7 linked regions of the Homo sapiens genome follow. The protein of the gene in region 6 purifies or fractionates together with the protein of the main gene of each other region. This does not show direct contact. Each region holds a gene or a part of one and is shown on either strand. Other genes may lie near its edges. The genes, in order: TUBB1, CHCHD6, PIGU, PTRH2, CD276, CLEC5A and TSPAN6.

The links.
Region 1: the proteins of CLEC5A (region 6) and TUBB1 purify together in Homo sapiens (affinity purification with mass spectrometry; 3 studies listed by BioGRID and IntAct, with this or other methods). This does not show direct contact.
Region 2: the proteins of CLEC5A (region 6) and CHCHD6 purify together in Homo sapiens (affinity purification with mass spectrometry; 3 studies listed by BioGRID and IntAct, with this or other methods). This does not show direct contact.
Region 3: the proteins of CLEC5A (region 6) and PIGU purify together in Homo sapiens (affinity purification with mass spectrometry; 2 studies listed by BioGRID and IntAct, with this or other methods). This does not show direct contact.
Region 4: the proteins of CLEC5A (region 6) and PTRH2 purify together in Homo sapiens (affinity purification with mass spectrometry; 3 studies listed by BioGRID and IntAct, with this or other methods). This does not show direct contact.
Region 5: the proteins of CLEC5A (region 6) and CD276 purify together in Homo sapiens (affinity purification with mass spectrometry; 3 studies listed by BioGRID and IntAct, with this or other methods). This does not show direct contact.
Region 7: the proteins of CLEC5A (region 6) and TSPAN6 purify together in Homo sapiens (affinity purification with mass spectrometry; 3 studies listed by BioGRID and IntAct, with this or other methods). This does not show direct contact.

The regions. Positions count from the first base shown.
Region 1 is NC_000020.11:59,022,429-59,024,791, forward strand, and holds part of TUBB1 (tubulin beta-1 chain), read left to right. Parts: intron 1-416; coding exon 417-525; intron 526-1,061; coding exon 1,062-1,172; intron 1,173-1,276; coding exon 1,277-2,355; 3' UTR 2,356-2,363. UniProt on the Homo sapiens protein: Tubulin is the major constituent of microtubules, a cylinder consisting of laterally associated linear protofilaments composed of alpha- and beta-tubulin heterodimers.
Region 2 is NC_000003.12:126,731,740-126,735,239, reverse strand, and holds part of CHCHD6 (MICOS complex subunit MIC25), read right to left. Parts: intron 2,163-3,500; coding exon 2,018-2,162; intron 1-2,017. UniProt on the Homo sapiens protein: Component of the MICOS complex, a large protein complex of the mitochondrial inner membrane that plays crucial roles in the maintenance of crista junctions, inner membrane architecture, and formation of contact sites to the outer membrane.
Region 3 is NC_000020.11:34,670,593-34,674,092, forward strand, and holds part of PIGU (GPI-anchor transamidase component PIGU), read right to left. Parts: intron 1-3,500. UniProt on the Homo sapiens protein: Component of the glycosylphosphatidylinositol-anchor (GPI-anchor) transamidase (GPI-T) complex that catalyzes the formation of the linkage between a proprotein and a GPI-anchor and participates in GPI anchored protein biosynthesis.
Region 4 is NC_000017.11:59,697,431-59,700,930, forward strand, and holds part of PTRH2 (peptidyl-tRNA hydrolase 2, mitochondrial isoform b precursor), read right to left. Parts: intron 2,760-3,500; exon of another isoform or gene 1,444-2,759; coding exon of another isoform or gene 1,441-1,443; intron 549-1,440; coding exon 9-548; 3' UTR 1-8. UniProt on the Homo sapiens protein: Peptidyl-tRNA hydrolase which releases tRNAs from the ribosome during protein synthesis. Promotes caspase-independent apoptosis by regulating the function of two transcriptional regulators, AES and TLE1.
Region 5 is NC_000015.10:73,711,699-73,715,014, reverse strand, and holds the end of CD276 (CD276 antigen isoform a precursor), read right to left. Parts: intron 2,082-3,316; coding exon 2,059-2,081; 3' UTR 501-2,058; downstream 1-500. UniProt on the Homo sapiens protein: May participate in the regulation of T-cell-mediated immune response. May play a protective role in tumor cells by inhibiting natural-killer mediated cell lysis as well as a role of marker for detection of neuroblastoma cells.
Region 6 is NC_000007.14:141,944,175-141,948,279, forward strand, and holds the start of CLEC5A (C-type lectin domain family 5 member A), read right to left. Parts: upstream 2,801-4,105; 5' UTR 2,633-2,800; intron 2,139-2,632; 5' UTR 2,119-2,138; coding exon 2,040-2,118; intron 1,227-2,039; coding exon 1,167-1,226; intron 1-1,166.
Region 7 is NC_000023.11:100,630,307-100,633,806, forward strand, and holds part of TSPAN6 (tetraspanin-6), read right to left. Parts: intron 3,234-3,500; coding exon 3,099-3,233; intron 2,263-3,098; coding exon 2,179-2,262; intron 561-2,178; coding exon 492-560; 3' UTR 453-491; intron 1-452.

The sequences.
Region 1 (2,363 bases), on a different chromosome or scaffold from region 6:
ACTGTGAAATCAGATAAGAATTCAGTTTATTTTCCTTTAATGGAATCTACACTTTACTAGCTTGGAGCATTATAAGGAGAAATTAGAGCTATATTGACATTAAATTCTAAAACAACAGCTTTAATGTATATAATGGCATGAATTTAATAGGAGGAAAATCCAATTTAGTACTTTGTGTTTGACATTTTATTTAAGGAGTTCAGGTGGGGAGAAAATGCAATCTTCATATTACTTCACATTGCTTAGTAGAGGCAAAAAGCGAATGATGCCATGGTTATTTATGAAAAGGCCCTAAAAGAATGTCTTGGGGAGGGTCAGGCAACCAGAGGGAAACAGGCTTGGGAATGCTAACTTTCTCTGTGGTTAACACAGCCTTTTTCGGGGTCCGTTTACTCTGACCTTCCTCCTGCTTTCAGTTCTGGGAGATGATTGGTGAGGAACACGGGATCGACTTGGCTGGGAGCGACCGCGGGGCCTCGGCCTTGCAGCTGGAGAGAATCAGCGTGTACTACAACGAAGCCTACGGTAGGACTGGCGGGGCTCTGGGAGCAGTGGTCCCGCAACTGGGAACACAAGCAGAGGAAGGGCAGAGGCCCAGGAGATGGAAATGTCAAAGCAGTGATGTCTATGCTCAGGGAGGCGACAGGCAGGGCAGCAGGATCCTAGAGTGGTGGGTCCCCAAGCCCTGGTCAAGACGCAGGAATGGGGAAGGAGCTGCTGGATATGGCACACACCTTAACACAAGCAGGTTAAGTACTCACTTTCCTTTGTGGTTTCACAAATGAAACCAGGATCATTTCCAATATGAAGGAAGAGAATCTCTGTCACTGGCAATATCACAGAGCAGACTGATGGAGATTGTTTCTGGGTATTCTATAGATTTGTGGGATTGTTGTTGGGGTAAAAAATATGATGTTAGATACTCAAATCTCGACCTACCAAGGGCCCCTTTCTAGAATATCCATGATTTTTTTTGGACCAGTATCACAAAGTTCTATTTTGATAAAACATTAACTTTTAGAAAAACAAGTAGGCTGACTTTTTCCTATTTTTCTACACAGGTAGGAAATATGTGCCCCGAGCAGTCTTGGTGGACCTAGAACCTGGGACGATGGACAGCATTCGATCTAGCAAATTAGGAGCTCTCTTTCAACCCGACAGTTTTGTCCATGGTATGTTTTTCCAGAAGGTTCCACCAGGAGGAGGGGGGGATGCTTTACTGGTGCCCTTCTCTTTTCACCTTTCTTCCCCTGCTGGTTTCTCTTTTTGGCCACAGGTAACTCTGGGGCTGGCAACAACTGGGCCAAAGGCCACTACACGGAGGGAGCCGAGCTGATCGAGAATGTCCTAGAGGTGGTGAGGCACGAGAGTGAGAGCTGTGACTGCCTGCAGGGCTTCCAGATCGTCCACTCCCTGGGCGGGGGCACAGGCTCCGGGATGGGCACTCTGCTCATGAACAAGATTAGAGAGGAGTACCCGGACCGGATCATGAATTCCTTCAGCGTCATGCCTTCTCCCAAGGTGTCGGACACTGTGGTGGAGCCCTACAACGCGGTTCTGTCTATCCACCAGCTGATTGAGAATGCAGATGCCTGTTTCTGCATTGACAATGAGGCCCTCTATGACATCTGCTTCCGTACCCTGAAGCTGACGACACCCACCTATGGGGATCTCAACCACCTAGTGTCCTTGACCATGAGCGGCATAACCACCTCCCTCCGGTTCCCGGGTCAGCTCAACGCAGACCTGCGCAAGCTGGCGGTGAACATGGTCCCCTTCCCCCGCCTGCACTTCTTTATGCCCGGCTTTGCCCCACTCACGGCCCAGGGCAGCCAGCAGTACCGAGCCCTCTCCGTGGCCGAGCTCACCCAGCAGATGTTCGATGCCCGCAATACCATGGCTGCCTGTGACCTCCGCCGTGGCCGCTACCTCACAGTGGCCTGCATTTTCCGGGGCAAGATGTCCACCAAGGAAGTGGACCAGCAACTGCTCTCCGTGCAGACCAGGAACAGCAGCTGCTTTGTGGAGTGGATTCCCAACAACGTCAAGGTGGCTGTCTGCGACATCCCGCCCCGGGGGCTGAGCATGGCCGCCACCTTCATTGGCAACAACACGGCCATCCAAGAGATCTTTAATAGGGTCTCTGAGCATTTCTCAGCCATGTTCAAAAGGAAAGCTTTTGTGCACTGGTACACCAGCGAAGGGATGGACATAAACGAATTTGGGGAAGCTGAAAATAACATCCATGATTTGGTATCCGAGTACCAACAATTTCAAGATGCCAAAGCAGTTCTAGAGGAAGATGAAGAGGTCACGGAGGAGGCAGAAATGGAGCCAGAAGATAAGGGACATTAACTGTGAGA
Region 2 (3,500 bases), on a different chromosome or scaffold from region 6:
TGTAATTAATACATTCCAGGTGAGAACGAAGAGACAGCAGACCTGTAGGTTGTAATCTTCCACCTCTAGAGGAGGCCAACTTTTCCTGCTCATGCCATACTGATTAACGCGTCATCTCCAGGATAGGGGTCCTTCTTACTTGGTTGTCAGGCTGCCTGCAGAGGGGTAACAACCCATCTGCCTCTCAGAGACTGACTGCAAGAGCCTCTGAAGGCATGCCCTGGCCCCGGTTTCTCACTGCATCAACCGATTCCTCACCAGGATGCCATGGGGTTCTAAAAGCACAAGTCAGATCTCATCACTCCCATCCTTACAAACTTCAGGAACCATTGACTGTTTCAGGATCGATGCGGGCTACTTTGAGGGTTAACTCCTCAGCACATCCAAGGCCTTCTAAAATCCAGCTTCAAACCTCACTCTTCTCACTGGATCCGATCACCTTCTCAACACCTGCCTCTCAGCCCAACTGCCCCTCAGCCTTAAGGCTGAGTTTAATGCCGTCTCTGATCTACCAGCTCTGATCCACCAGCAGCTTATACATTTGCATTTCCAAATCTTTTCTTCAATTTAACAACTACTGTAACCAATCTGGCCTTTTTCAAAGTTCTTAGTTTGTCTTCTCCACAGACTAAAACTTCCCGAGGGCTAGGATCCTACATTGTTTGTATTTCCCAGAGGGCCTGGTTCAAAGTGCATTTATGTGCCTACTGCACACTTCAAACATTTGTGTAGTCATCAAATTAGTAAGCTAAGGCCTGTGCCCAGCCAGCATGTCTGGCCTCCCAGGAGAGCACAATCCCAAATGATGCTTTCACATCGTGTTCAACCCCCTTCTACACAGCACCGTGTGTACGAGGCTACCCACCTAAAGTAGTGCAAGGCTGTTCCTGGTCTCAAACCTCATGGCCTCCAGCAGATGTTATTAGATGCCGCCCACAGCCATGCTTCCCTCCCCCAACTTCCTTGCTGTCAGTCCTAATTCTAGCTGGATATGCAACCTCCCTAATGTGACTAGAAAAGAGCCCTAGCTGCAGTCAGTGGAGCCCTCTGTATCCCCTCTGCTGAGGACTGGCTTAGCCATGGGCACCTGGTACAATTCAAGCCAGTGTGATGTAAGAGGAATTCTGCCAGGAGCTTCTAGGAAAGTTATCCCTGTGATAGAGACACAAGGGTCGGCACAGCCTCTCTTCTTCTACTGAGGGTTTTACTGTCTGCATGGGACTTGTGGGGCAGTAACAGCCTTCATTAACCATGGGGACAGCCTGCCTAGGATGCACTGGCACACTGTGGATGGCAGAGTGGCAGGAAGAGAAGCACCAGGTCCATGATGATGCTAGTGAGCCACTGAATTAGTCAACCCTGGGGGCACTTGAGACTTCTCATGTTGCAAAATAAATGCTGCACTTAAGCAAAAAGATCCTAATAGCCACCCATCACTTAAATGTATTAATGATAACAACAATAGTGCACTCCCATGGTCTGCCAGCATGTGCTAAGTCCTGGACAAATACTATCTCCTCTGATTCCCTGGGCAGTCCTGTGTGTAAACATCACGAACTTCAAGCAAGACTCACAGACAGGGTGTCCAGGATTTGCACCCAACCTGCCTAACTCTAAAGATGATGCCCTCCCTGTCATATATTACATGGCTCCAGGCCTCTAGTCCTCTGCCCTCACACGCTCCTGACACACATACCACTGCAGCCCTGACATCTGTGAAGTTTCAGAGCTAAGTGAGACTGTTGAGTGGTCTGGTCCCTTACTGTGTAGACCTGAGGCCACAGAGACTGCAAAAACATGCCAAAGGCAGCAAAGCAAATCACTGACAGAGCCAGGGCTGGGAGAACCCCAGTTCCTGGCTCCCAAAAGACCCTTTTCCACAGAGGTGAAGCCGAGCACATCCCAGGGGCAGCCTGAGCCAGCAGGGCTTCAGACTAACCAGGTGCCAGGGCCCGCCCCCTATTTCCCAGGGTGCTGCCCAGCTCAGAAGGCCAGATCAGGGAAAATCTGCACTCACCAGCCGGACTGACTTCTGCTCCTCATGGCTGATGCTGCCTTCGCCCGTGGGCAGGGATGCCTTGGAGTGCTTGGTGGCAGCCTCTCTTTCCCTCTTTGCCACCTGGAAGAGCTTATCCTGGATAGCAGCATGCTCCTGTTCATACCTGTGCAGAAGAAACATGAGGAGAAACAGATGTGGATGGCATGACGGGCAGCCCATAGCCAAGACAAGATCTGCGCACTCACTTCAGCCACCAGGGAAATGCTGAAACCAGCCAGCGGCTGGTCAGGAAAGGAGAGAGTGCTGTGAAACCGCATGCCCCATCATTCCACACCCAAGCTCAGGCATCAGTGACAGCTCCCCAGACAAGAGGAGACAATGACACTGAGCCAAGACAACACAGCTCAGGAACAGGAGGAGACCTGGCCAAGTAGGCAGCCCCATGCCCAGTGAGAGTCTCAGGGAGGGGCTCAATCCACGGATTGCCTCCACTTGAGAGCTTGAAGATTTGAGATGGTAGTAGTCCTCTGTTTTGAACATTTAACTCTTCATTCTGAATATCTTCCTACCCTTTGACCTATTTCTGGGCATTCTGCCTAGTAAAATAATCCTATAGAGAATAAAAAAGTTATTAGTGCTGAGATGCTCTTAACAGTATTATTTATTGTAGTGAAAAAAATGCAAGCAACCTAAATGTCCCAAAATCAAGGTCAAGCTAAAGAAAATATGGTGTGATCATATAATGATCTATGACATCATCACTAGAAAATAGTCTTTCATTTGTCTGTAGGTTGAATCTAAAAACTGAGAACCAATAAATGCTTTTAGCAATAAAACTGCTTATAAAGCAGGTGCAACTAATGACAAATCATTATAATACTAAGTGAAAATAGCAAGATATGAAATTATCTATGACATTCAAAAAATAACCCTAAACGGGGGGTGAGGGGACTGGGTGGAGAAGAACATGAAATACTCCAAAATATTAACAGTGGTTGTCTTGAGATGATGAGTCTATGGGTGATTTTTTCACTTTGTATATTTTCTAAATCTTTCATTAGCAGGCATTACTTTACCATTTTTAAAATGTTTAAAAGTACCAAAAAAGCAGGGTTCAGGTTAATAGTTGGCTTTTTTTCCTCTTTTTTTTTTTTTTTTTTTTGGTTTTGGGTCTCACAATGTGGTCCAGGCTGGAGTGCAGTGGTGCAATCATAACTCACTGTAAACTCCAACTTCTGGGCTCAAGCAATCCTCCCACCTCAGCCTCTTGAGCAGCTGGGACTACAGGCATGTGTTACTACCCCCCAGTTAACGTTTTTAATTTTTTTGTAGAGACAGGGTCTCACTATGTTGCCCAGACTGGGCTCAAACTCCTGACTTCAAGCAATCCTCCTGCTTTAGCCTCCTAAATTCACTGGGATTACAGGATTGAGCCACCACACCTGGCCAGGTGAGTTATTCTTGCTAAGACCGATTAGGGAGAGTAAATCTTAGAATGTGG
Region 3 (3,500 bases), on a different chromosome or scaffold from region 6:
GCAGTGGTGCAATCTTGGCTCACTGCAGCCTCCACCTCCTGGGCTCAAGCCACCCTCCCACCTCAGTCTCCCAGGTAGCTGGGACTACAGGCACACGCCACCATACCCACCTAATTTTTGTATTTCTTTTTTGTAGAGGTGGGGTTTCACCATGTTATCCAGGCTGGTCTCAAACTCCTAAGCTCAAGTGATCTGCCCACCTCAGCCTGCCAAAGTGCTGGGATTACAGGCTTGAGCCACCATGCCCAGCAACCCTGATTCTCATAGCTGTAGTAGGGGTGGGTTTCTAGATAAGTACTAATAGCTTGGGCTCTACCCTGAACTCAAAAAGCTAAGCCTATACGAACTGTCAATCTTTGGGTGAAAGCCTCAGGAAAGACTAAAACATGGCAGAAAGTTTCTAACATTATTCCTGACAGATATCTAAACAAGATGATACTGGTGGAACAGCCATACCTAAAGATTGCTAGCTCTTCATACAAAATATTATTAGCGAGGTCACCTTGGGCAAATGACTTAATCTCTCCATGCCTCAATTTTCTCATTTATAAAATGGGGTTGATAACAGTTTGCCATTTTAGAGATCAAATTAGTGCATTAACACACCTAAAGTGCTTAGAACAATACCAGGCATGTAAAAAGCATCATATCATTGTTAATTTCTTTCTTTTCTTCTTCCTTTTTTTTTGAGACGGAGTTTTGCTCGTTGCCCAGGCTGGAGTGCAATGGCGCGATCTCGGCTCACCGCAACCTCTGCCCCCCGGGTTCAAGTGATTCTCCTGCCTCAACCTCCCAAGTAGCTGGGATTACAGTCATGCACCACCACGTCCGGCTAATTTTGTATTTTTTTAGTAGAGACAGGGTTTCTCCATGTCGGTCAGGCTAGTCCCGAACTCCTGACCTCAGGTGATCCACCCACCTCGGCCTCCCAAGTGCTGGGATTACAGGCGTTAGCCACCGTGCCCAGCCTGTTAATTTCTTATTAATTTTTTAGAAGCTCCTGCTTTTGTCAAACAGGAAATTCATTCCTTAAAAATTTATTTCTTGGCCGGGCGCAGTGGCTCACACCTGTAATCCACCACTTTGGGAGGCCAAGGCAGGTGGATCACCTGAGATCAGGAGTTTGAGACCAGACTGACTAACATGGTGAAACCCCATCTCTACTAAAAACACAAAATTAGCCAGGTGTGGTGGCTCATGCCTGTAATCTCAGCTACTCAGGAGGCTAAGACAGGAGAATGAATCGTTTGAACCTGAGAGGCAGAGGTTTCAGTGAGCTGAGATTGTGCCATTGCACTCCAGCCAGGGCAACAAGAGTGAAACTCCTTCTCAAAAAAAAAAAAATTTTCTTTTTTTATAAGGCAGAGTCTCACTCTGTCACCTAGGATGGAATGCAGTGGCACGATCTCGGCTCACTGCACCCTCCACCTCTGCCTCCCGGGCCCATGCAATCCTCCTGCCTTAGCGTCCCGAGTAGCTGAGACTACAGGTATGGGCCAAACATGTCCAGCTAATTTTTGTATTTTTTTGTAGAGACAGAGTTTTGCCATGTTGCCCAGGCTGGTCTCAAACTCCTGGGCTCAAGTGATCCTCCCGCCTCGGCCTCCCAAAGTGCTGGGATTACAGGCATGAGCCACAAAACCCGGCCTGGAAATTTATATGTATTTTAGTTACACTATCAAATAAACCGATGGATTTGTAGAAATAGGTAACAGAAAAGATATTTTTCCTGTTGAAATGGATATGTTATTTGTGCCTGCCCAACATCAATCTTCCCTTCTTTTGGTAACAGCACCCTAATTTTTCCTATGGGATACCCCCCTTGTGTACATTTTGGGTGAGACTGCCTCCTTTCCAAAGAGGTAGATACATGACCCAGGCAGACTACAGTAATTGACCGAAGAATTGGTATATGACCCAAATCAGTTCAATGTGACTTAATTCCAGAGCTTTCGTTGCACTTATTCAAAAAAAAAGAGGTCAGGCATGGTGGCTCATGCCTATAATCCCAGCACTTTGGGAGGCCAAGGCAGAAGGATCGCTTGAGGCCAGGAGCTTAAGACCAGCCTAGGCAATATATTGAGACCCCATCTCTACAAAAAACAATAAAAAACAATTAGCAAAGTGTGGGAGCATGCACCAATCCCAGCTGTTTGGGAGGCTGAGTCAAGAGGATCTCTTGAGCCCAGAAGGATGAGGCTGCAGAGAATTATGATCATGCCGCTGCACTCCAGCCTGGGAGACAGAGTGGGACCCTGTCTCTCAAAAAAAAAAAAAAAAAAAAAAAATCAGTCCATACTATAGCCAATCAAAATCTATTTGGATTTGGATCCAGGGCCCCTTTACCCAAAGAACTGATCATTCAAAAATTTAAAATGTCAGCCCGGCGTGGTGGCTCACGCCTGTCATCCCAGCACTTTGGAAGGCCGAGGCGGGTGGATCACGAGGTCAGGAGATCGAGACCATCCTGGCTAACATGGTGAAACCCCGTCTCTACTAAAAATACAAAAAATTAACCGGGTGTGGTGGCGGGTGCCTGTAGTCCCAGCTACTCGGGAGGCTGAGGCAGGAGAATGGCGTAAACCCGGGAGGCGGAGCTTGCAGTGAGCTGAGATTGCACCACTGCACTCCAGCCTGGGTGACAGAGTGAGACTCCGTCTCAAAAAAAAAAAAAAAAAAAATGTAAAATGTCATGTGAAACCAGAAGGAGTCCTACTTTACTATTTTTAAATTCCTGCCTTTTAGGGTTTATATAATCAGCTGCTTTAAAAAATATCCCATTTAAGGTACCCTTTGAAGAAAAGTAATGCTTACAGATGTTGTACCTTCCCTCCCAAATGATACAAATAATCATGCTGATTTAGTCAGATCCAGATGATGGGTGGTTAACAAATCTCTCTCTCTTTCTAGTCCTGACACTGGCCTCAAGCTCCAGACCTAAACCTGTCAGTATTGTACTATCACATTATACACACATGAAACACTACTATGTCCTTTCTGATTCATCTATTTCAGCCCATGTCAGCACTATTTTTCCTAATATCTCAACTCAAAACCTTAGAATTCACCTTTTTGGCTTTCATTATTGTGTTGAGCTTCAACATGGATTATCTCGTTGAACAGGATACATAATTTCCTATTTTACAGATGGAAACACTGACGTTAGAATTCATACAGCTTGGCCGGGCGTGGTGGCTCACGCCTGTAATCCCAGCACTTTGGGAGGCCAAGGCGGGCGGATCACGAGGTCAGGAGATCAAGACCAGCCTGGCTAATATGGTGAAACCTCGTGTCTACTAAAAATACAAAAATTAGCCAGGCATGGTGGCATGTGCCTGTAGTCCCAGCTACTTGGGAGGCTGAGGCAGAAGAATCGCTTGAACCTGGGAGGCAGAGGTTGCAGTGAGCCAAGATCATGCCACTACACTCCAGCCTGGGCAACAGACTGAGACTCCATCTCAAAAACAACAACAACAAAAAAAGCTTGGCGCAGTGGCTCA
Region 4 (3,500 bases), on a different chromosome or scaffold from region 6:
AAGTCCACCTAGTAAAGTTTTAGGTGACCAGTGACTTTGTCAATTAGGTCTGCTGGTCCTGGCCCAATCCCTAGGACAGTTTGAGAGCCTGGTGCAATCTGAGTACGTCCAGCATCTTGAATTAAACTTACAGTCAGTCCCAGCATTTTTGCATGGGCCAATAATGCAATCAGGGTTTCTTCATCAGGAGCTTTGACCACCACCTTGGGCTGGCCACAGTATTCCCATTGTTTGAGCATTTCAGGATTTCTTCTTTGAATCTGCTTGTAGGCTGAAACAGCAGCATGAGAGCACTGGGCAGCCACTTTCCCTTTTCCCATCTTTAAGTCATTTCGAACCACAAGAATCATCTTGTACTCCCCGCTGTCTCCCAAGATGCTTGCTTCACTTTCAGTATCTGTGTGTGTCTTGCTCGTCTTGCTTTTGGGGAGCATCCCAAAGCATACTCGAAGGCTCCAGCCCAGGCACATGCCACAAGCAACTCCAACAGCCAAGCCGAGTGTACTGGGATGAGCCAAATATTCCATAACCAAGGATTTGGAGGGCATCTTAAAGGAAAGGAAAACAGTTATCACTATCCGGCAGTAACAACTTACAGAGGTATAGGCTTATCAGAGAAACATTTTGACTATACACTTAATGGTCATCCAGAAAAAAGGCAAAACACACCTTTGATCTTATGCCTGCACCCTGTTTCCAACACCCTCTTGCCCACCACCAGTGTACTAGAAAAGATTCAAGCATCCACATGAAACAGTTTAGGTCATTTTGAATCTTGATGTAAACGAAGTTGCATAAAGTTCAAAAACTCTATTCCTCAGTCTTCCCTTAGTCTTGTGGAGATGTTCCGTTTTACCAAGATGCCTAAGATTTAAAGAAACCAAAAATAACCCTTTCCTGGAATACAGTGCTAATCGGTGTTTTCACAATGCAGTGGTTCTCAGTGGAGATGGTATCAAATCAGTTACCCTCAGAAGAACCTCACTGTCACATTAATGGGCCTGGAGTGAGGTGCACTACTGAAATTTACTAAGCCTGAGCAAGGATGCTAAAAACCTTACAAAATGAAGAGTTGTCCCATTGGACGTGAGTGCAGCTGAAAAACTTAATAACTGAGATGAGAACTCAACATCATTTTACTTAAGAACACAAAATATTTTTTGCATAGTTTTACTATGTACAGGTGCTCCTCAATTTTCCATGGGGTTATATCCCAATTAACCCAATTAATTGAAAATACTGTAAGCCAAAAATGCATTTAATACACCTACAGAATATCATGACTTAGCCTAGCCTACCTTAAATGTGCTCAGAACACTTACATTAGCCTACAGTTGGACAAAAATCATCTAACACGAGGCTCTTTTATAATAGTGTTGAATATCTCCTGTAATTTATTGAATACTGTAAGTGGAAAACAATGGTTGTATGGGTACTCACCATTAATTTACACAGCTGAAAGCACAGTGGTCCTGAAAAATGTTTGAAGCACTGAAATAGAATTAATTGCTGGATGATGGGGATGCAACAGGGTCCTCAATTTCTCTCTCTTCTGATGAACATCGAGAATAGGTGGTAGAAGGCATTGGGACATCAACACTAGTTGATGGTTTAGCAAGCATAGTGTTGTTCTTCAGGAAGATACCAAGTTTTGACCGTACAGCTTGTTTCTTCTTTTCACTATATATTTCTCTGTAGCAAGCAAGAGCATCCTGTATCTGCGCCTGTCAACTGTGGCGAATCTCTCGTAATTGACGTCCATTTCTTCTAACGTGTAGGCCACTGCTGATAGCAGCAAATGCCTCTGCCAGTTTCTTTGCTGTGAACTTTCTAGGTGCCGTGGGTGTAACTTCTTCCACTGCCTCAACGCCTTTACCTCTTTCTTCCTCCAGTGCAATCAGCTCCTTATTGCAAAGATCTTTAGCCATAATTATCCTATGCAGCTGTTCCTTAAAAGCTATGGCACCTTCATTACCAGCACGTGCTGCCTCACCAGTGATCTTTACATTGTGAAAATTATGACGCCTTTTGAAGCGCTGGAACCATCCATGACTTGCTTTAAACATTTGTGTATATGTAGGATCACTGGCACGGTCTTTTAGCATATTAAAAAGACTTCTTGCCTTAGCCTGGATCATCAGTAGGCTAAGTGGTATACGCTTCTGTATCTGGTCTTCCATCCACATAACAAGTAATTTTTCCATATCATCAATTGGTCCAGCCCTTTTCTTTGTGATGACAGTGGATTTAACTGATGCTGACGATTTCGCTGCATCACTGATTTGCTTCTTATCCCTTAAGATGGTTGAAATCGTGGATTGCCAAAGTCCTAACTCACGTGCAATGGCCATTACTGGCTTGCCACCTTCATGCTGGGCAATTATCTTGAGTTTCATTTCAAGAGTAATTGCCTTCCTCTTCTTCATCTCACCAGAAACAGGAGACACTGATGGACATTTTGTAGACATGATGGAATGTGAAAACACAAAACACAATATCCAAAAAAGCTGACAACACAGTACACGGTAGAGGATGGGTTGTTGATTCCCGTGATCACATGGGTGACTGGGAGCTGTGGCTCGCTGCCGCTGCCCAGCATCACAAGAGTGTACTGTACCACATTATCACTAGGCCAGGAAAAGATCAAAATGCAAAACTCGAAGTACAGTTTCTACTGAATGGGTGTCTCTTTCACACCATCCTAAAGTTGAAAAATCCTAAGTCGGAGACTGTCCATACTGAATTTTCCAGAAGTGTAGCTATCATAAAACAAAGGAATGTCATCCTTTATTATTTTAGAAAATCTTGCTACTTCGGCAAAGCTGTTCATAATATTTGAGTCACCAATAAGACACTTATATCAGTCTACAAATGAGGCTGCTGGATTCACAGTGCTTCTATGTGGCAAGCAACTATCAGTTTCTTTTTCTAGTGGAGTATTATCTAAGCATTTATAAACATGGGGCCACTATATTTGTAATGCACTGTATTTGTAATGTAAAGTGGTGCCCTTGGAATTGTGCACTGCATGATTGGCACGGCATAGATGACAGCCCTGGAAGTACTTATAAATTTCCTTTATGTTCTTCTTTAAAGTTAGGGCATTATATTAACATTCTTTCCACTAATTTTAACATAAAAGGGGTTACTGTCTTTGGTGGGGCAGAAATTCGTTTGAGGTGGGGTCAAGAGATAGAGCAAAAAGAAAAAGCAATGGATATAAGGCGACACAGAGGAAAGCAATTTTTTTTTTCTCCTAAGAAGAAAGGATAAGCATATTTAAATGTTAATAGGATGAAGCCAGAAGAAAGGCAGGTAAATGCTCAAGATAGAGAAAGACTTTATAAAGGGATGTGGTTTTGGAAAGGAAAAGGGACACCTTTCCCAATTTCAGTTTTAAATCAAGTAGGTCCACGGATTTGAAGGCAGGAAAGTATTCCCCCTGAGGGAAGGAGCTCAGACAGAAGTTAAAATGGAGTAGAGAAGAGAAAGGCGGAAAT
Region 5 (3,316 bases), on a different chromosome or scaffold from region 6:
CAAGAAAGCCAAGGCTCAGAGAAGGTAAATGTCCTGCTCAGGGTCATAGGGCAGAACTATGTCCTGGGAATGGACCTCTGATCCCTGGCCTGGTGCCCATCCAATTGAGTCAGCCAGAAACAGCATTCAGAACTCTTTTCCTGGTGCCAGCTTCTTACTGGGTCTCAGCTTCACAGTCTCTAAAATGGGTTCATTAGTAGAGGCCCTAAACAAGCCTAGGTTTGAGTTTTCTGAGGCAAAGAAATTGAGTGATGCTTCCAGTGGGAGGAGCCCCATACAGTGACCAAAGGGCCTGGCTTTCTGGACAACCAACTTCACTTTACCCAGAGGGAAACTGAAGCCAAGGAGGGAGCCAAATGGCCTTGGGGATCCAGTGATTTAAGGACGGTGAGATAAGGAGGGCCAGGCTTCCCTACCCCAGCCTGCAACATCCAGGAGAGAATCCTGCTGGTTGAGTCCTGGGGCCCACCCTGCTTCCAAACACTTCACAGAGAAAAAGCTTTTTACAAAGACATTTATTTTCCCCAAAATATACCCCCAGTTTACAAAATCCCTCCGAGTCCCACATTTAAATTAGAAGTCCTCACATCTTCCATTCCTGGGGCAGGGAGAGATGACATCCGGAAGGCATCAGAACGTCTGAAGTCTCACTCTACCAGAGGCCAGGAGCTGGCCAGAGGCAAGCCAGGAAAAGACTGCCCCAGCCCCAGAATAGCACCATGGTGGGGGTGGGGGGCAGTCCCCTCGGTGTCCCCAAAGCATTCCTGGCCCTGCCCTGCCCCAGGCTCTGCCTTTTCTGCTGCTATGAAAGGTCCAGAGGGCCTTGGTGCCTGCCCACCTGCCCACACCTGGACAGACATTTTGGACACCACCAGATTCTCTAGCCGTGGCGAGGGGCTATGTCCCTCTCTCCAGGTTTCCGCCCCAACCCCATGCTCTGGGTAAGAATTATGGGTGGGATGGGGGTGAGGTATCCAGGAAGCCTTGAGCCACAGAGGAGGTGTGGAGCAGGGAGCCAGGCAGGAGCCCCCTGCAAACCGCAGGGTGCAGTGTAGTTAGTTGTCTGTCTCCCAGCTGGATGGGGAGTCCTTGAGGGAGGAACTTTATCTTCCCACGCAGGGCCCCCAGCACCTAACACAGTGCTGACATCTGTAGTTGCTCAATAAACATCAACTGAATGGATACATGAAAAGAAAGGAACAAAGAGGTGAGAAGGCAGAGGGACAGAAGCTGACCCCCAGGGGCCCCATCACAGACCCCTGGAGAACCAGTGTGACCAGCACATGCTTCCGTGGGGAGGATGGGCAGGGGAGAGGGGCACTGCAGAGGAGGCTGGGCCAGGGGGGAACCACACGTGTTCCAGCACGTGCACCTGCAGGTCTCCATGCACAGCTGTGCATGTGGTGGGCGCAGAGTGCCCTGTCTTCACTTGGGGCAGGGAGGGAAAAGGCCAGTATTAAGGCTAGAGCAAGAGGAGGAAGGAGGGGAAAGGAAACAGCTTCTAGACTCCAGGAGATGTTGAGGCCGCACTGTCCCTGTCTGAGAAGAAAAGATTCTATGCAGGTGGAAGCAGGGCTGAACATGATCACTAGTGTATCACGGCCATTGGAGAAACAAGGCCGGGGTGACTATGCATCGTGTCTTTGGTGAAATAAGGCAGGGGGTCAGTCAGTCTGAATATTGCATCTTTTGGAGAAAAAAGGCAGCCAGATGGTCCACGCAGCACTGGAAGAAGAGGGTGGTGATGTGGTCAGTGTACTGTGTCCCTAAGAAATGTATGTACTGTGAAATAAGGCAGCAGGCAGGATGACTTAGAGAACTAAGGTTGTGGGTGGTCTGTTCATTGTGTCTATAAGAAAAAAGGCAGCAGGATGACTTGGGAATCATGTCCATTGGAGAAATAAGGCTGCACAGTGGTCTGTGTATCGCATCCTTTGGAGAAGGAGCCCACCTGTCAGAGCAGGATGCATCTGTTGGGGGCAGGGCTCACAGTGCAGCCCCATTGCAGCCAGAGGGTAGGAGCTGTAGGGAGGGGTAGCAGCTCCCTGGTCCTCATGGTCAGGCTATTTCTTGTCCATCATCTTCATTTCATGATGGGAAGAAAAAAAAGGGAAGGGAAAAGCATTAGATGCCAGAAGATCTATTTTTGGGATTATGCCAGAAGCCCAAGCACCTGGTCAGACTTCAAGTGGGGAGTGTGTGTGAGACAGCAGCCCAACGGACAGCCCCCGTGCTGACCACGGCCCTGGAGGCCCAGACACAGATGCAGGTGCCAGGCACGCCGGGGCACCTGAGGGGGACCACCTCACGCAGCCCCCTCTCAGTACCCACAGGCCCACAGCCCGATACACTTCCCTCCACTCTCCCTCTACGTGCAACACTTTTCCCTTCTCATCTCCTGTTTGTCCATCCCATCCACCCTCCAAGGCCTGGCCCAACTCCCTCGTCCAGCAGGCAGCCTTCCCAGTGTCCCCTCCACACTGGTTTCCCTGAGAGTGACACGGCAGGGGCCCTCCTCCTTCCCTTGGGCTTCCTGTCTCCATGTGGAGGGCCATCCCAAAGACTCATCTTTCAGACCCCACTCTGCATCTGAAGCTGAATGGAGACTTGGGAAGAAGGGCTTGGGCCCTTCCCCTGCCCTCTCCCTCACCCATTCTTGGGGCTCTGTATGTCCCTGGGGAGAGGAGAAGAGCTCCCCCATCTGGGCACTGCCTCTGTGGTTGTCCAGCATGGCCAGAGACTGAGGGGGCAGGCTGCCTCACCAAGGAGCAGGGTTAGGAAGCAAACTGGTTTGCCCATCCAGGCCACATTCTCCAGCAACTCTTCAAAACCAAGCTGACTTTTTTTTTTTTTTTTTTTTGAGATGGAATCTTGCTCTGTTGCCCAGGCTGGAGTGCACAGGTGCAATCTCAGTTCACTGCAACCTCTGCCTCCCAGGTTCAAGTGATTCTCCCGCCTCAGCTTCCCAAGTAGCTGGGATTACAGGCATGCACCACCACGCCCGGCTAAGTTTTGTATTTTTAGTAGAGACAGGGTTTCACCATGTTGGCCAGGCTGGTCTCAAACTCCTGACCTCAAGTGATCCACCCACCTCGGCCTCCCAAAGTGCTGAGATTACAGGTGTGAAGTACCATGCCTGGCCTAAGCTGACACTTTTTATCTCCATCTGCCCAGCTCTTCTATGGTTATTTGATTCTGAAAAACAGGAAGGAAATGACCTATCTCCTGTATTTCCAAATGTCATCACTGACATTATAACAATAGGCCCAATAATGACTATGGACATTTACTAACCACCCACTGTGCGCCAGGGACA
Region 6 (4,105 bases):
ATGTCTCCTTTTTTTGATGTAGCCATAGGCATCAAATCCTGAGAAAAAGAACAGAAGAAAGGAAAAGTAATGGAGGAATTTAGTATCAGAGAGAAACTCTCACACTCCTATCGTATATAAACCTTTGACAGTGTTTTCTCCAAAGGACTGTTTGGAGTACTTCTCGCCCAGGCTCCACACAGCATCTTTGCTGTTCTTTCTACTTCTGGTGTCCCAGATTCAGTATGAAAATTCATAATCCTGGGCAACTCTGGGACTCTTTTCTCATCAGCACTGTATTAGCTCTAAGGATTGAAGCTAATTGGAACAAAATTTCAGGGCCAAGGGGATATTATCAGACAAGGAAGCAGGTGAACTTTAGGGAGATTTTCTATAAGCAGGGAAGGGTCCATTCATTTCTAGAAATCCATATAGGGGCCTCATTTCCCTGGGAACACTGGCTGTCTGAGCAGGCAGCCGCAGTGGCTTCAGAGGCTGGTCAAACATCTAATTGGGCTGCCAGTTATTTGTCCATTGTGGTTGAAGACCACTTTACTCTGACATCAAATTAGTTACTTACATTTATCTTAATGAAACAAATTGGCATTCACTTTTTATTTCAGTACCCCGTTTATAGACTCTAAGATGTAATAGCCTGGTTTTCATCAGAAACTACTTTGAGATTATAACTTAAGGACTCAATACATATTTTATGAGTATTTTCTCCATACAGCTCACTGTATTGGGTTGCCTCTGTTGATACTAAGATAAATGAGAAACGGTCTTTCTCCTAACGATGTCAGTAGTAATAGGTGTCTTAAGAGGAAGTGAGAGGATGTTGTTGGGAAAGGCTTCAGAAGGAAGCTGGTTTAATCGGGAGAGGAGAACCATGCCCCACTCATCTCTCTATCTCCCATAGCTACTGGCTATTAAGCACTTTCACATTCTATTACAATGATTAGATATAAATCATCCCCATATCCAGGAGAAAAACTAAGGATCAGAAATTTCCCTCAGTCTGCTCTTGGTTTTCTCATATGTAAAAGAAAGGGAATTAATTAGAAGATCTTTATGGACCCTTTGTACAAAAGAATTTCTTGGGAAAGGAGGCTGTGTGGAAGGTCTCTAGGAATTCAGCATAGAAGTAGCAGGAGGATGGGGAGAAGATTTACCACCATGCAGATTACCTGTTCCATAGCTCCTGGTGGTGGTGAAACCATCGTTACTTTTGTTAAAAATCTGTGGGACTGAAAAGAAAATCAGCTGTTGGCTCAGCCCCAAATGTGACTGCATGATGAATATGACAAACAAGTATCAGCACAGGGGCTGCTAGGGTACTGTGACTATTAGTGGGAAATACTGAACTCTCTGACTCAGTGAAGATGCATAAATGTGGTTTTGTGAATACGTTCCCTTATTCATATTTCTGTCCTGCTGTCTGACATGATAGGAATTGCACCTTCAGATTGCATCATGAGGAAGACACCTCTTAGCTAACTACTGCCTCCCACTCACGTTTCCTTCCTCATTTATTTTCCCTACTGGCTTCTGGGGCTAGAGAAGATTCTAGTTTCTGATTGCAGTAAAATCCTTTCATAGGAGGCTTCTTTAACTAGGCATTTGGATGAATTAATTTATATGTATACAAAGAGAAATTTCTTTCTCAGTTAAATCCTGTTACATTATACTTCAGCTCTTACCATGGCCTTGTCATTGGGTTGAACTGGAGCTGTATTTTAGATTTTGCCAACAATAACAAGCGCTGCCAAGTACTTCAGCTGAGATCACCCAAATAATACTCTACTAGCAAAAGCTTTGCGTGGCGTTCTAACCATCAGAAACTGGTAAGTTCTATATCTCCAAGGTAGACCAAGGAGCCTGGGCCACTGTGTGTGCTGGGGAGTGAGAAAGGCATTGCCAATTGACCTCAGGTTGGGTCAGTTAGTCTCAGGTGGAAAGACTTGGATATGTAACCTTTACACACAACCATGCATTCTGAGAGAAGAGTCAATGAGCAAGACAACATGAAGTCTGGGGCAAGAGGTTGCTCAAATACTCACAATAAAGTAGAAATAAGGTCATTCCAACAACTTTAAGCACTACCACAATAAGCCCAGAGATGATCATGTGCCAGTTCATGATGAAGGAGCTGCAGGGGCCTGTGAAGATTAGAGCACAGCAGCATCAGAATTCGGGTACAAGGCTGCTTTTCACTAGGACATATCCCAGCCTCTCGCTCAGAGTACCCAAAGCAAGGCAGGCTTGGAAGACAGGCATGACATTGACAGGTACCAGGAGGTGACCCAGCGTGGGCCGCGAACACAGAAAGAATCATGTATTGATTGGAGCCTTGGAACTTGGCATACTGCCTCTCCTTCACTCATTCCCTACTCCAGGCCTCAGCCTTGCCCTATTTGTGGCCTCCTAAATTCTGTCTAATAATTAAACCCTCTCCTGTATTTTGAGAACCCTTATCCTTGAAATGACCCTTGTTCCCAAGGACCTTAGTCTGTAGCCTTCACCATACTGACTTAAGTTGTCAGAAGCCTCAGTCTTCCAAATACCAGGGGTAGGTGACAGACAGGACAGGCATCCCTGAAGGTCTTGGCATTGGTCAACAGTCCATGCAGCCAAGACAGACAGACAGACTCACCTCTTTCTCCCTGGAAGGCTAGGCTTGCTTGCAGATGGGGGTCTTCCTGGTGGCCTAATGCTTGGTGTGGCAGGCAGGGGCCCCGTCTCCTGAGAATATGCTCCTTTTGCCCAAGCAACGTTCTTCCTTCTTCACAGTCTCTGCCTTGGTAGCATCCCCAAGAAATACCTCTTCCTGTTCAGTGGGGTTCTTGGCAAAGGGAGCAGGCGGGGCAAAGAAGGGAAGAGACTCTCTAGCCCTAGTGGTGGCAAGAGCAGACTTCCTGCCAGGAGAGTTCTAATGCAGAGGAACATTTTAAGGACAATTTGGAAAACAAAATACCTCAACACAGATTCACCCTTCCTCTGTGTCTAAATCTCCTTGAAATACAGTGGGAAGAGAAATGTAGTAAAATTTTAACAAACATTGAATCTGGATAAAAGGTAGCTGGAAGTTATTTGTACTTTCCTTACAACATTTCTGCAAGTCTGAAATTATGTCAAGTTAAAAATGTTAAGAAATCCAGTTGAAGACACTAATATGAATGAGCAGGTTCTTGCTGTTCCATTTGCTCCATTTGCTGGAGCTCTGCTCATTCCCCTTTATCATGGACTCCTCTCTGGCACCACCTGCTCACCTTCCAGACCTCATGGTGGCTCTTCAGTGTTTCTTGAACATGGCACTCTGCTGGATACAGCAGTGGGCTGGGGTGAACAATACTCAAGTCCTATTGTCAAGGAGTTTTTAATTTCGTGTTAAATTTGAAAATTTGCTTTTATTTTCCCTACTATGAAAACTACTGTGCTCATGACAAAAAAATGGCTGGAAAATATTAACAAGGAAAATTGAGAAAACAAAACCATTTATAACCTTGTACATTTAGTTATAGTCATTGCTAGCACCTCAGGGTGTATCCTTTCGAGATGAGTAGGTAGATAGAAAGATAGATGGATAGATAGATAGATAGACAGAAAAACACTGGTTCACAAAGAACAATGGGAACATATTGTACATATTGTTTTGCAATCTATCTGCTCAAGATTAAGCTAACACTATGTTATATATATCTTTTCATGTCAAAATATAGATTTTGATAATGTATTATTTAATATGTGCATAGCATTCAGGTGTAAAACTATATGATTTATTTATTCAGGTGTAAAAGTATATTATTTCTTTAACAATTGCATAACCACAAATCTTCTAGTAAAGTGTGGTGGACAAGAACAAAGTTTTAAAAATCAGTCCTGCTTTTGATTCCTGGAGCTGACCTTCACTAGCTGAACATCCTTGATTAAGTTACTGAGTCTCTTTACCTTCCATTTCTTTATCTATAAATAGGAGTAATTATAGTAAATACCACATAGGATTGTTCCGAGAAATGAGCAAGATAATGCTTGTAATTTCAATAGCGTGATACTCAGCATCTTAAACATAAATCCTTAGTATTCTAACTATTTTCTAAAACTCTTCTAACTATCTTCCCAATGCACA
Region 7 (3,500 bases), on a different chromosome or scaffold from region 6:
CTGATTAAGATTGTGGTAAATGAAAACTACGAAAAGGACTAAGGAAAATGTCAATATTGGTGAGGAGCAGAGTGCACCTGCCAGGGAACCTCACGAATAAGGTCATTCTTGGGATTCTTTGTTTCTCCTCTCTCCAGGCCAAAACATGTTAAAAAAGGGACCACTTATGATCTTTAGGCTGACATGTGTATGTAAATATATAAACCCACACGGGGAGTCTTCTGTTGCATAACTGTAGAGAGCATGCATAGATAAGCTGTAGCTAAGTCATTACTTTCTGACCATGCCCTGTGTATAGAGACCTAACCTGCCTACACAGGGTTTACATAGCACCAGCTAGATTTAAATATATTACTAGACAAGACGTTCTTGGCAAACTTAGTCCATGCATCACATACACAGGCTAGAATAAATATCAACACTAACAGAGCTGAGGACCAAAATGAACGCACCTTAAAGGTAGAGAGGAATAGGCCCACAGATACATTGGGTTACACTATCTCATACTGGTTATTTGTTATGGCACGAGAGAGGCAGTAGGCGAGAAAGATTCCAATCAGCTAGAAATAAAATAGGAACAAAATTAAATACATACACAAAAGAACTTGAACACCTCAGACTATATTCTCCTCTCACTTGTAATTCGCTTATAATTTTCGTCCTTGAGTTTTTCTAGAGTTATGTTTAATACTCTGCAGCATCTAGATCACATTCAAAGAATCTAAGTGAAGTTTTATTGCCACTGTGACCCAGAATTTCACAACTCTCACCAAAGGAAAATCCAGCAAACTCACTCAAGGAAAATTCAGTCACGAGTTTTGAAGAAACTTTTCTTACTCTCATTTCCCAGAAAAAACAAATACATGGTTTTCAATAAGTATCTTAACAAGTGAAATCTCCATCAACGAGGGCAGAGATTTCCCTGGAAAGATCCACAGCAATGCTACAATAATGAAAATGTTCTAGAATCCCTGTACTGTCCGATATAGTAGGCAGCAGCCACATGGCTACTAAGTATTTCAAATCTCCAGCAAACTGAGGTTTTAATTTTATTTAATAATTTATAACAATTCAAAGGTGGCTAGTGGCTACTGCATTAGCATAGATTTAGATATAGCTTTGCTTACTACTTTAAAAATATATTAAGACGAAACTTGAATTAGTCTTATTTCTAGTGTTTAATATAAAAAAAAACGTTCAGAGCCACAAAACAAACTTCATGCTACAGTGGGAAACACAACTTGGGAAACACAATTTGATCTACAACGTGGAATCAACCCCAAACAACTGGTGCATAAGGAATGTGGGGGTGGCATCATCTAAATTTTAATAGGTTGGAACTTGTATACAACTCATCAGGCAGTTGCAGCCCAGAAAAGATCCTAATAACATTTTAGAATCTTGACTGACCGCAGAGAGAACCAAGGTTCCTATCTAATGTTTTGTTTCATGAGCTATGATACTGGAAAGTTGCCATAACTAAGAGGGCACTGAGTCTTTCCACAGTTAACTGCTTTCAAAAGATATGCACTGCTACAAGTTAATTCTAAATCTTACTTTTTTTCTTCTTTTTTTTAATTATACTTTAAGTTCTGGGATACATGTGCAGAACGTGCAGGTTACATAGGTATACACGTGCCATGGTGGTTTGCTGCACCCATCAACCCATCATCTACATTAGGTATTTCTCCTAAATAAAGTATTTTTATACTGTGACCAGTAACTGAGAGTTTTGTGAAAATGCGACTTCCCTAAAAATGTCCTCACTATCCAGTCCCCTGAAGCAAAAACTTATAAGCCTTAAAAGTGAAAATCTCGCTGCATGCAGTGGCTCACGCCTGTAATCCCAGCACTTTGGGAGGCCGAGGAGGGCGGATCACTTGAGGTCAGGTGTTCAAGATCAGCCTGGCCAACATGGTGAAACCCCAACTCTACTAAAAATACAAAAAAATTAGCCAGGCATGGTGGCGCACACCTGTAATTCTAGCTACTCAGGAGGCTGAGGTGGGAGAATCGCTTGAACCCAGGAAGTGGAGGTTGCAGGGAGCTGAGATGACGCCACTGCATTCCAGCCTGGCAACCGAGCAAGACTCCATCTCAAAAAAAAAAAAGTGAAAATCTTCTAGCTTACACCTACAAGAGGGATGAAATATTTCCTAAGTAACTACAAAAACTTACTTGGAAGCAAGCAACTCCAAAGGAAATTCCTGCAACGACTCCCATTTCTGACTCTATAATGGTCATCACCTTTATAAAACAACCCTAATGGGAGGAAAAAAACAAAGATTAAATACAGCACAAGCAGCCTGTGCTTTTCTTTATGGTAATAAATACTTCGATCATATAACTCTGCAGAAAGATATATTTATGGTAATAAATACTTTGATCATATACCTCTGCAGAAAGATGTATGTATCATAGCCTTTGATTGTCATTTTATTGAAATCTATTCTCTTCCATATGTTCTCAACAGAACAAATAATTATTCCCAATTATTTCCACCTTCTGGATTATATATTTAAAAGTGTTACTTCACTTGAACCCAGGAGTTCAAGGCTCCAGTGAGCTATGATCACAACACTGTACTTCAGACTGGGTGACAGAGAGAGACACTGTCTTTAAAAAAAAATACTAAATAATAAATAAACAAAAAAGTGTTACTTGCTGGCCGTCTGAACTCAATTCTTACCCGCCCTATCTATTTCAGCTTATATTTAAAAATTAAAAACTGGCCAGGTGCAGTGGCTCACGCCTGTAATCCCAGCACTTTGGGAGGCCAAGTCAGGTGGATCACAAGGTCAGGAGATTGAGACCATCCTGGCTAACACAGTGAAACCCCGTCTCTACTAAAAAATACAAAAAATTAGCCAGGCGTGGTGGTGGGCACCTGTAGTTCCAGCTACTCGAGAGGCTGAGGCAGGAGAATGGCGTGAACCTGGAAGGCGGAGCTTGCAGTGAGCCGAGAACGCGCCACTGCACTCCAGCCTGGGCGACAGAGCAAGACTCTATCTCAAAAAAAAAATTAAAAACTGGGTCAATTTTGCATTCAGTTAAGTCTTCAAATATTGCCAAATAGAAAATTTTAAAAGGCACCTTACTTCATTGTTTACTTTGTCTGCATCTCTCTGTGGAGTACAATCTTCAAGTTTACAGCAACTCTTAGGAAATCCTTTTTCTGAGTAATAATTAGTATCTGTCCAATCTCTATAATCGGTGACACCACAACAATGCAACTGAAAAACCCAACAAAAGCATTTACAGTTTATATTACAACTTTGTAGTCAAACATTTAACCTAATATCCTCTATTGCAATTTGTGCTCAAAACATTTACTAATCTCAATGATCTCTCTCCTCAATTGATTCAAGAGATGAGCACTGGGTCCCTGATTAGCACCATGCATGACAGTTTTGTATTGGCCTTACTTTCCTGCTATAGTTGGTACTAACTGTACCTGGACTATGATGTAAGTGGGGAAGGAAGAGAACAGGTGCACATGT